Regions from separate parts of the Homo sapiens genome. Here region 2 is reported to be linked to region 1. Evidence: microRNA targets listed by miRTarBase, many of them from high-throughput screens and not tested one by one. Region 1 holds a microRNA gene; the other region holds the end of a gene's coding sequence.

Evidence for each region. The annotated mature microRNA hsa-miR-6758-3p reads ACUCAUUCUCCUCUGUCCAG and lies in region 1 at 1,215-1,234, opposite strand. An mRNA with a match to its seed (bases 2 to 7 or 8) in the 3' UTR can be bound and repressed. Matches are read on the target gene's strand: a 7mer-m8 pairs with bases 2 to 8, a 7mer-A1 pairs with bases 2 to 7 and ends in A, and an 8mer does both.
Region 2: miRTarBase lists STARD8 as a target of hsa-miR-6758-3p. Seed matches in the 3' UTR shown: 7mer-A1 at 1,315-1,321.

The regions. Positions count from the first base shown.
Region 1 is chr12:57,509,965-57,513,964 of GRCh38, reverse strand. MIR6758 (microRNA 6758) reads right to left here and starts at 1,277; the gene lies at 1,215-1,277. It overlaps MARS1 (methionyl-tRNA synthetase 1), which reads right to left. Exons shown (of 21, transcript NM_004990.4): 12 at 2,097-2,267; 13 at 1,862-1,957; 14 at 1,612-1,729; 15 at 1,001-1,214. It also overlaps the pseudogene LOC124903093.
Region 2 is chrX:68,724,169-68,728,168 of GRCh38, forward strand. STARD8 (StAR related lipid transfer domain containing 8) reads left to right here. Exons shown (of 15, transcript NM_001142503.3): 15 at 137-1,668. The coding sequence ends at 254. Among named protein-coding and RNA genes, the nearest start is that of STARD8, 79 kb to the left of the region's middle.

The sequences.
Region 1 (4,000 bases):
CAACCTCTTGAGTAGCTGGGATTACAGATGTGCGCCACCACGCCCGGCTACTTTTTGTATTTTTAGTGGAGACGGGGTTTCACCAGGTTGGCCAGGCTGGTCTCGAACTCCTGTAGGTAAGGACTATTTATTAAATGTGGTTAATTACCAAAGCTGAAAGTGAGTAGCAGGACTGACCTATAAGGGTCCAGGGCTCAGAGAGTGTGACTAAAGAATCCTAAATTCTGGAGAATACTGCTTTAGATTGCAGAAGAGCTGAGATAGGCACCAATGATAGAATGTGAGCCTAAGGTAACAAAAACTCTGAACTCTGAAGAGTATAGCAGAAGCCTTTTTTTTTTTTTTTTTTTGAGACAGGATCTCCCTCTTTTGCCAAGGCTGGAGTGTAGGGGTACGAGTACTGCTCCACTGCAGCCTCAATCTCCCAAGTTCAAGAGACCATCCCGCCTCAGCATCCTGAGTGGCTGGGACTACAGGTGTGCGCCACCACGCCTGGCTGATTCTTTTTGTAGAGATGGGAGATTCATTATGTTGGTCAGGCAAGTCTTGAACTCCCGGCCTCAAGTGATCCTCCTGCCTCAGCCTCCCAAAGTGCTGGGATTACAAATGTAAGCCACCATGCCCAGCCCACAGAAGCCTCCTACCCCCACACCAAAATAACCCCTTTCTTCAGCCAAACTTTTCAATGATCTGCAGGTGAACTATTTTGCTGGGAGAGAATACATCTTCAATTCTACAAAGAACAGTAATAAGGAAACAATTTACAAAAACCCACTTTATAACCAACTTTGCTAAATCACATCTCTACAGCTAACTGTTCCATCAAGCACACATAGCCTAGTATGTGCTAGGAACAGATCCCAATTAATAGAAATCAACTTTCCACAGTGTCCTCACAGCCTCCTGCCCATTTTCTAGTTCTCTCCACATTCCCATCTCCTGAGGGAAAATGAGCCCCACCCCAGCTCACTGCTAACTCTGACCCCTTACCAAGTCCTACCTGTTGATGAAGTTGCCCAGGTTGTTAAGCAGCTCAGAATTATTCTTCAGCAGCAGGTCCGTCCAGGAGAAAGCACTGTCCTGGCCCTCAGGCCGAATGTACAGCAGATAGAAGCGCCAGATGTCAGCAGGGATCCCCGTGTCCTGGGCCATGTCCCCAAACACTCCCACACCGCGGCTCTTAGAGAATTTCCCATCCTCATAGTTCAGGTACTCTGGACAGAGGAGAATGAGTGAGAACCATCTGCTCACATCACATCCTTCCCCTCTCTAGCCCACTAACTCTTCCTTCTTTCCTCTTTCTAACCTCAACTATGGGTGTCTAGCAACATTTCTCCTTAAGGGGCTGGTATGCTCAGATTTTGGGAGTCCCTTCCTATCCATTCTGGCCCTTTTTTCTCTTTGCTTATATCTACTAAAGAGTTTTAGCTTTAGACTTTTGCTTTCTTCAGGTTCTTGTTCGTTTCTCTAGGTTGAGTTCTCATTTTAATTATTTCCTATTTCAGCTCAACTCCTAACTCAAGATAGCAGCTCTCCAAGATCTTTTTCCAAGTACTGCCTCACCCCTCATTTCCTATGAACACCCCATCAGTAGTCTTCCAGGGTACTTACCTGTAGCAATGAGGTGGCTGACCAAGGTATAGTTATCCTCAGCTCCTAGGGCTGAGCAAGGAAAGACTAAGCTATGGAAAGGAACATTGTCTTTGGCCATGAACTGATACAGGTCCACCTAGGGGAATGTGGTTAGGAGAGATTTCCTGAGACCTCCTTCAAAGGCCCAAGGAAGACCAGACACCCAACCCTAACACCCACACCCTACCGCCTACCCTCCCCATGCACAGCCTAACCAAGAACTGCTCACTTGCTCTGGGTTCTTCCACCATCTCTCCCACTGGTCTGTGTAGTTGGCTGTGATGGACAGATAGCCAATAGTGGCATCAAACCAGACATAGAATACCTGGAGGTCAGAAGGAGGTAAACATGTTAGGGACCAATCCAAAGTCTCAAACTGAAACAAGACATAATCAGCAGTCTACTCTGCTAGCCCAGGGTTTCAACACTAAGGCTGAATGATATGAATAAAAAAGGGTTTTTACCTTGTCTTCAAAACCTTCTAAGGGTACAGGGGTTCCCCATTTGAGGTCTCGGGTTATGCAGCGTGGCTTGAGGCCATCCCGAAGCCAAGAACGGGTGATAAACTGGGCATTGGGTGTCCAGTCACTGCCAGGCAATGTCCTCCCCAACCACTCCTCCAGTCGCTTCTCCAGCTGAGATAACGGAGAAAGAGGGCTGATTTAGGAAAGTCTCATATATGGTTAGCATAAGGATAAACACATATAACCTTTTTGGAGCACAATTTGGCAATATATAACTTTTTTTTTGGAGACAGAGTCTTGCTCTGTTGCCCAGACTAGAGTGCAGTGGTGCAATCATAATCACAGCTCACTGCAGCCTAAACCTCCTGGGCTCAAGCAATCCTCCTACCTCAACCTCCCCAGTAGCTGGGACCACAGGTGCACACCACCATGCCAGACTGTAATTTTTGTAGAAACAGGGTTTTGCCACATTGCCCAGGCTGGTCTTGAACTCCTGAGCTCAAGCAATCTGCCCACCTCAGCCTCCAAAAGCGCTGAGACTACAGTTGTGAGCCACCCTGCCCAGCCTTAACTAGATTTTTAACACACAGCCAGGGGCAGTGGCTTGCGCCTGTAATCCCAGCTACTCCGAAGGCTGACGCAGGAGGATCACTTGAGGGCAGGAGTTCATGACCATCCTGGGCAACACAGCAAAATCCTGTCCCTAAAAAAAATTTTTTTTTTTTTAATTTTTAAAAATATGGAACACTTCACAAGTTTGCATGTCATTCTTGTGCAGAGGATGTGCTAATCTTGTCCATATCAGGGTCTCACTGTCACCCAGGCTGGAGTACAGTGGCACATCATGGCTCACTGCAGCCTCAACCTCCCAGGCTTAAGTGATCCTTCCACCTCAGCCTCCTGAGTAGCTGGCACTACAGGCACGTGCCACCACACCTGGTTAATTTTTGTATTTTTAGTAGAGATGGGTTTCACCAAGTTGCCCACCCTGGTCTCAAACTCCTGGGGTCAAGCAATTCTCCCGCCTCAGCCTCCCAAAGTGTTGGAAGTTGGAATTACAGGCATAAGCCACCGTGCCCAACCAATTTTTTCTTTTTTTAAATACAGACAGGGTCTTGCTTTGTTGCCCAGGCTACTCTCAAACTCCTGGCTTCCAGCGATCCTCCTGCCTCAGCCTCCCAAAGTGCTGGAATTACAGGCATGAACCACCATGGCCAGCTGAGGAAGTGCAAAAAAGAAAAAAAAAATTTTCTTTTTTTTTTTTAAGGTAGGGTGTCACTCTGTTGCCCAGGCTGGTCTTAAACTCCAAGGCTCAAGCAATCCTCCAGCCTTGGCCTCCCAAAGCATTGGGATTACAGGTGTAAACCAGCATGCCCAACCAAAAAAAAATTTTTTTGAGCTGGAGTCTTGCTCAGCTGCCCGGGCTGGAGTGCAGTGGCACGATCTCAGCTCACTGCAACCTCCCCACCTCCAGGTTCAAGCGATTCTCCTGCCTCAGCCTCCTGAGTAGCTGGGACTACAGGTCGGTGCCACCACGCCTGGCTAATTTTTGTATTTTTAGTAGAGATGGGGTTTCACCACGTTGGCCAGGATGGTCTCGGTCTATTGACCTCATGATCCGCCTGCCTTGGCCTCCCAAACTGCTGGGATTACAGGCGTGAGTCACCATGCCTAGTCAATTTTTTTTTAATCAGCCAGGCATGATAGTACACGCCTGTAGTCCCAACTACGCAGAAGGCTGAAGCAAAAGGATAACTTGAGCCCGAGAGTTTGAGAGTGCGGTGAGCTGTGATTGTGCCACTGCACTCCAGCCTGGGTGACAGAGTGAGACCCTGTCTCTAGAAAAAAATTTTGTTTGAACACACTTGGCTATATACCCTTAGTCTAGGGGAGGAATCAGGATT
Region 2 (4,000 bases), not on the chromosome of region 1:
TCCCCTGCCTCTGCCCCTACTTTCTGCCCCATGCTATTGATCCCTGGGGCTGGGGACAAGTCCTTTCTTCCTTCTCCCTGGTGAGGGCTCTGGGGAAAAATCCATTGCTCATGCCTGGTTTCTTCTGCTTCCCTAGGGGCCGTTCTCCTGACTGGTACAACAAAGTCTTTGGACACCTGTGTGCCATGGAAGTGGCAAAGATCCGGGACTCCTTCCCCACCCTGCAGGCAGCGGGCCCTGAGACAAAGCTGTGAGCCTTGGGCTGGTCCCAGGGTGGCACCACCCAGGCCCCCTGGGCACCAAGGGAGCGAGGGGGAATAAGAGCAGGGCAGCCCCCTGGGTGCCGCTGTCAGGAGCAGAGCCAGGCCCAGGTGGCTCCAGCTGCCTGTCCTGTCCCCTTTCCTAAAGCTCCTCTGCACATAGAGGGGAGAAAAAGAGAATTTAGGCAACTCCACTCCCCCTTCACCCCCAACCCTGTATTCTACTCTCCCGAAAAGAGAAGAGAATCGCATGAGTAGCAAGACTGCTGCCACCAGCCACCTGCTTGTGAGGCCGCCACTTGGCATGAAGCCTCCACAGCTCCCCGCCTGCAGGGGCAAAGAGGTCGACAGCAATGTGTGATCCCAGCTCTCTGCCAGACTGAGAGGGCAAGCCGTCTTGTTTGCTGCAAGGATGCTTTTGAGGTTGGACAGGAGGTTCTGGTCCTGCCTTTGGGGCCAACGCTGGCTCTGAAGTGTCTTTTTCAGAGGAATTGGACTGGAGTGAATGGGCACAGGGGTGGAGCGCAGGGCAGCCCCAGTCACCACGAGCTGTTTCATTTGTGTAAATACGATGCTGAATTTTATGAGGCTGAGTTAAGAGTGGGCACTGACGGGCCCCTAATATGTGACATGACGATTTGGCATAGATAGGGATGTGAGAGTGGAGTACCTTCCTTTCTCAAGTCTCGAGATGCCAGTGAAACCAGTATTCCCTGACTTGGGTTTCACACTTTATCGACCACCCCATGGGGTCCTGTGTAGCCTTTGGCCACGCACTGACACTGCCCAGGCCAAGCAAAAGCAGAGTGTGGTTAAGAGACAAGGGTCTATGTCATCATCCCTTTTGCTTATGGTAGTGGGCTAACATAACAGCCCCTTTCTCAAGCAGAGACCTGGCCCCTGGGCCAGCCAGATGGAAGGGCCTATCTTAGCCAGCTGGAGCTTAAGCCAAACCTGTTCTGTCCCACTGGCCAGCCATCTTTGCTCACATGGAAATTCAAATGCCATTCAAAGGCCACTGGTGCTTTATTTTTCTATCTGCTGAGTAAACTGAAATGAGATGGGTCCCAACCACCACTGTAATTTTCAAGCCTATTTTATTTGTACCTGTAAATACTGTACAGCTAATATATATATATATATATATATATGTGTGTGTGTGTGTGTGTGTATATGTGTTTATAGAGATACACACACATATATATGTGTGTATATATATACACATACATATATATACACACACGCATTTGCACAGACACACACATATATCAATTCTCATGAGTGTATTATAATCTCTGGTGGGGGCAAGTGTCTGGAAGGCCTGAGGGGCACTTCAGATGAGAATGGAGAGGTAGGGAGCCAGGTGCAGCAGGATCCCTCAAATCAATAAAGCATTACCAGAGATGCACTTTAACTGTGTGGCTGTCTTTGCTGACAATGGGCTAGGGACTGGGGACTGGGGTTGTGACTGAGGCTTCAGTGTTAGGGCTCAGAGCATTAAGCATTCACCCCACCCTCTGCTGAGTCCTAGCTTACCGGCAGCAGGACTTGGGTGAGTCCACAAGAGGAATGGGGAGGGCCTCAGCTCTTCTCTTTGGAGAGGGATTTGCAGCCAGACATGGTGGTGGGGGGGTGGGGCAGAGAAGGGGTGGAAAGTTAGCCGGAACTTGGGCAGAAGCTGCAAACCCCATCTCATGACCTGGCCACAAGCATGACCTCAGGCATCCTAGGGAGAGGTGAGCCTGGCTAAGCGGCCATTCCTTCCCCTTCTAAACAGCTTGAATGAAGAGTGAAGTCCCAGCCCCAGGAGGCTTAGGGGGCCCTGTGCCACCTGTAAGCCAACCTAAGAGGTCGGAGTGCCTTAAGGCAGCCTCTGGTCTGGCTCCAGTGACCAGCAAAGCCCAGGGGGCTAGAGAGACCCTCTCATCTTGACTTCCCCGAAGGAAGGGGCTTTCCTCTATCATGTTATATGGCCATAAAATTCCCAGGCTCCGAAGAGCAGCTAGAGAGAAAGTCCAGGCTTTGGACGTTTGCATCCCTGAAGTGCTGTCAGTAGCCTGGGCAGGGAAGCCCTGCTCTCTGGGTACCTCAACCTCCTCATGGGTCAAACGAGGCCAGTCATACCTCTCCACAAGCCTGTCTCAGTAAGTGTTCAGGTTGCACCACCCAAGTCTGCACTCCGACCCGGCCTGAACAGTGAGGTGCCTGTCCAGTCCCGCTGCTCTATCACCTCCTTCCATTCTCTCTTGGGTTCAGTTGTCCCTACATGCCTTGGCCTTTCTTCACTGCTGTCACCTAGGGGTCTTGGCTAGCCCTGGAAGTGAGTGAGGTAGAGCAGAGGACCCAGTCAGCCCCTTGCCTTTGGGAAAACTAAATGGAGGTGCCTTGTGTGTGAGTATGGGCTGGGAGATCACTCTGGTGGTGCTGGGCTTAAGGGACACCAGTGTGATTTTCTGGCCAGTAGTTCTTAAGGAAGGCATTGGGGCTTTCTGGCCCAAGCACTGCCCACCTTCTTTTGGAAGGAGGTTGGTGGTAGGGTACAGAGGATGGGACTCAGCACTCAGATGATGGTTGCTAGGAGATGGATAAAGAGGAGGGAGGCTCTTGGAAGGGCCAGAGAGTTCCCCCAACCTTGCAGCTCTGGACTCTGCTACCCTGACCCAGTAGCCCAGTGTCTGGCATTATGGAAGAGGTAGCTCCAAGTAGGAGAGCTTCTGTTGGGCCTTAACATCATCCTGTGTGAAGCAGAGCTCCCATCCCTCATCTCTGCCTACTCTACTGTGCCTCTAGATGTAGGAATGAGTTTCATGATGAGGTTGCCCAGGCCTCTCATTCCCACCCACAAAGCAAGCACCACCCCTGGCCATTTCTAGCCCTGAGTCTTGTACCTCTGCTCACCCCAAGTAGGCTTCATTTCCCTGGTGCCAGAGAACATGCCTTCAAATTCCCAGCCCTGCTGCCCATAGTCTACTCTTGTGCTTTCCCTCACCCACTGCCTCAAAGAAGCCAGGCTGCAGGGGAATCCTGCATAGAAATCTAACAATCTGCCTGTGAGCTTTGATTATTGTTTCCTAGTCTCCAGTGCCCTGTTGCCAGAGTGGCTGAGGGTAGATGGTGGTCAGACCCAGGCTCAAATCTAGCTATATCATTTCCTGGCTGTGTGACCTTAAGTGGCACATTTAACATTTCTGATTTCCCTCTCAGAAAATAAGGGTAAGAATCATTTATATCTTGTAAGGTTGTTGTCAAGGTTAAATGAGCCAATAGTTGTGAACGTGGTTGCAGGTTGCACAGTGCCTTGCACATAGCAGACATCAAAATATGGCAGCCCCCCGCCTGCCCCATGTCTTTCCTGCCAGTGAGACTCCATAGGGAGAACTTGGTCCTCTCATCTGGGATCTCCAGCTCCAAGATAGTGAGGAGTGGGTGGGTTCTTCTCCCATCAGGACAAAGATGAGCAGCCAGCATCTGCCCATTGTCAGTGAAGACAATGAAGAAGCATGTTGCAATGGAGACTTCATGGGGGGATGGCACCATGCAAGTGGGCCCCAGTGGTGTGGATGGAGCAGAACATACTGGTATAGGCAAAGATGATGGCAATGACAGCCAGGAGCTTTACATCTATTCGTAACAAAGCTTCCGAGTTCCTTGCTCAAGGCCTGGGGGGGTGGGGGGCAGTGATGAAAAAAAGCCCAGGGCAGTCTGGCATGGAGATAACACAGGGGATAGGGCTGGGGCTA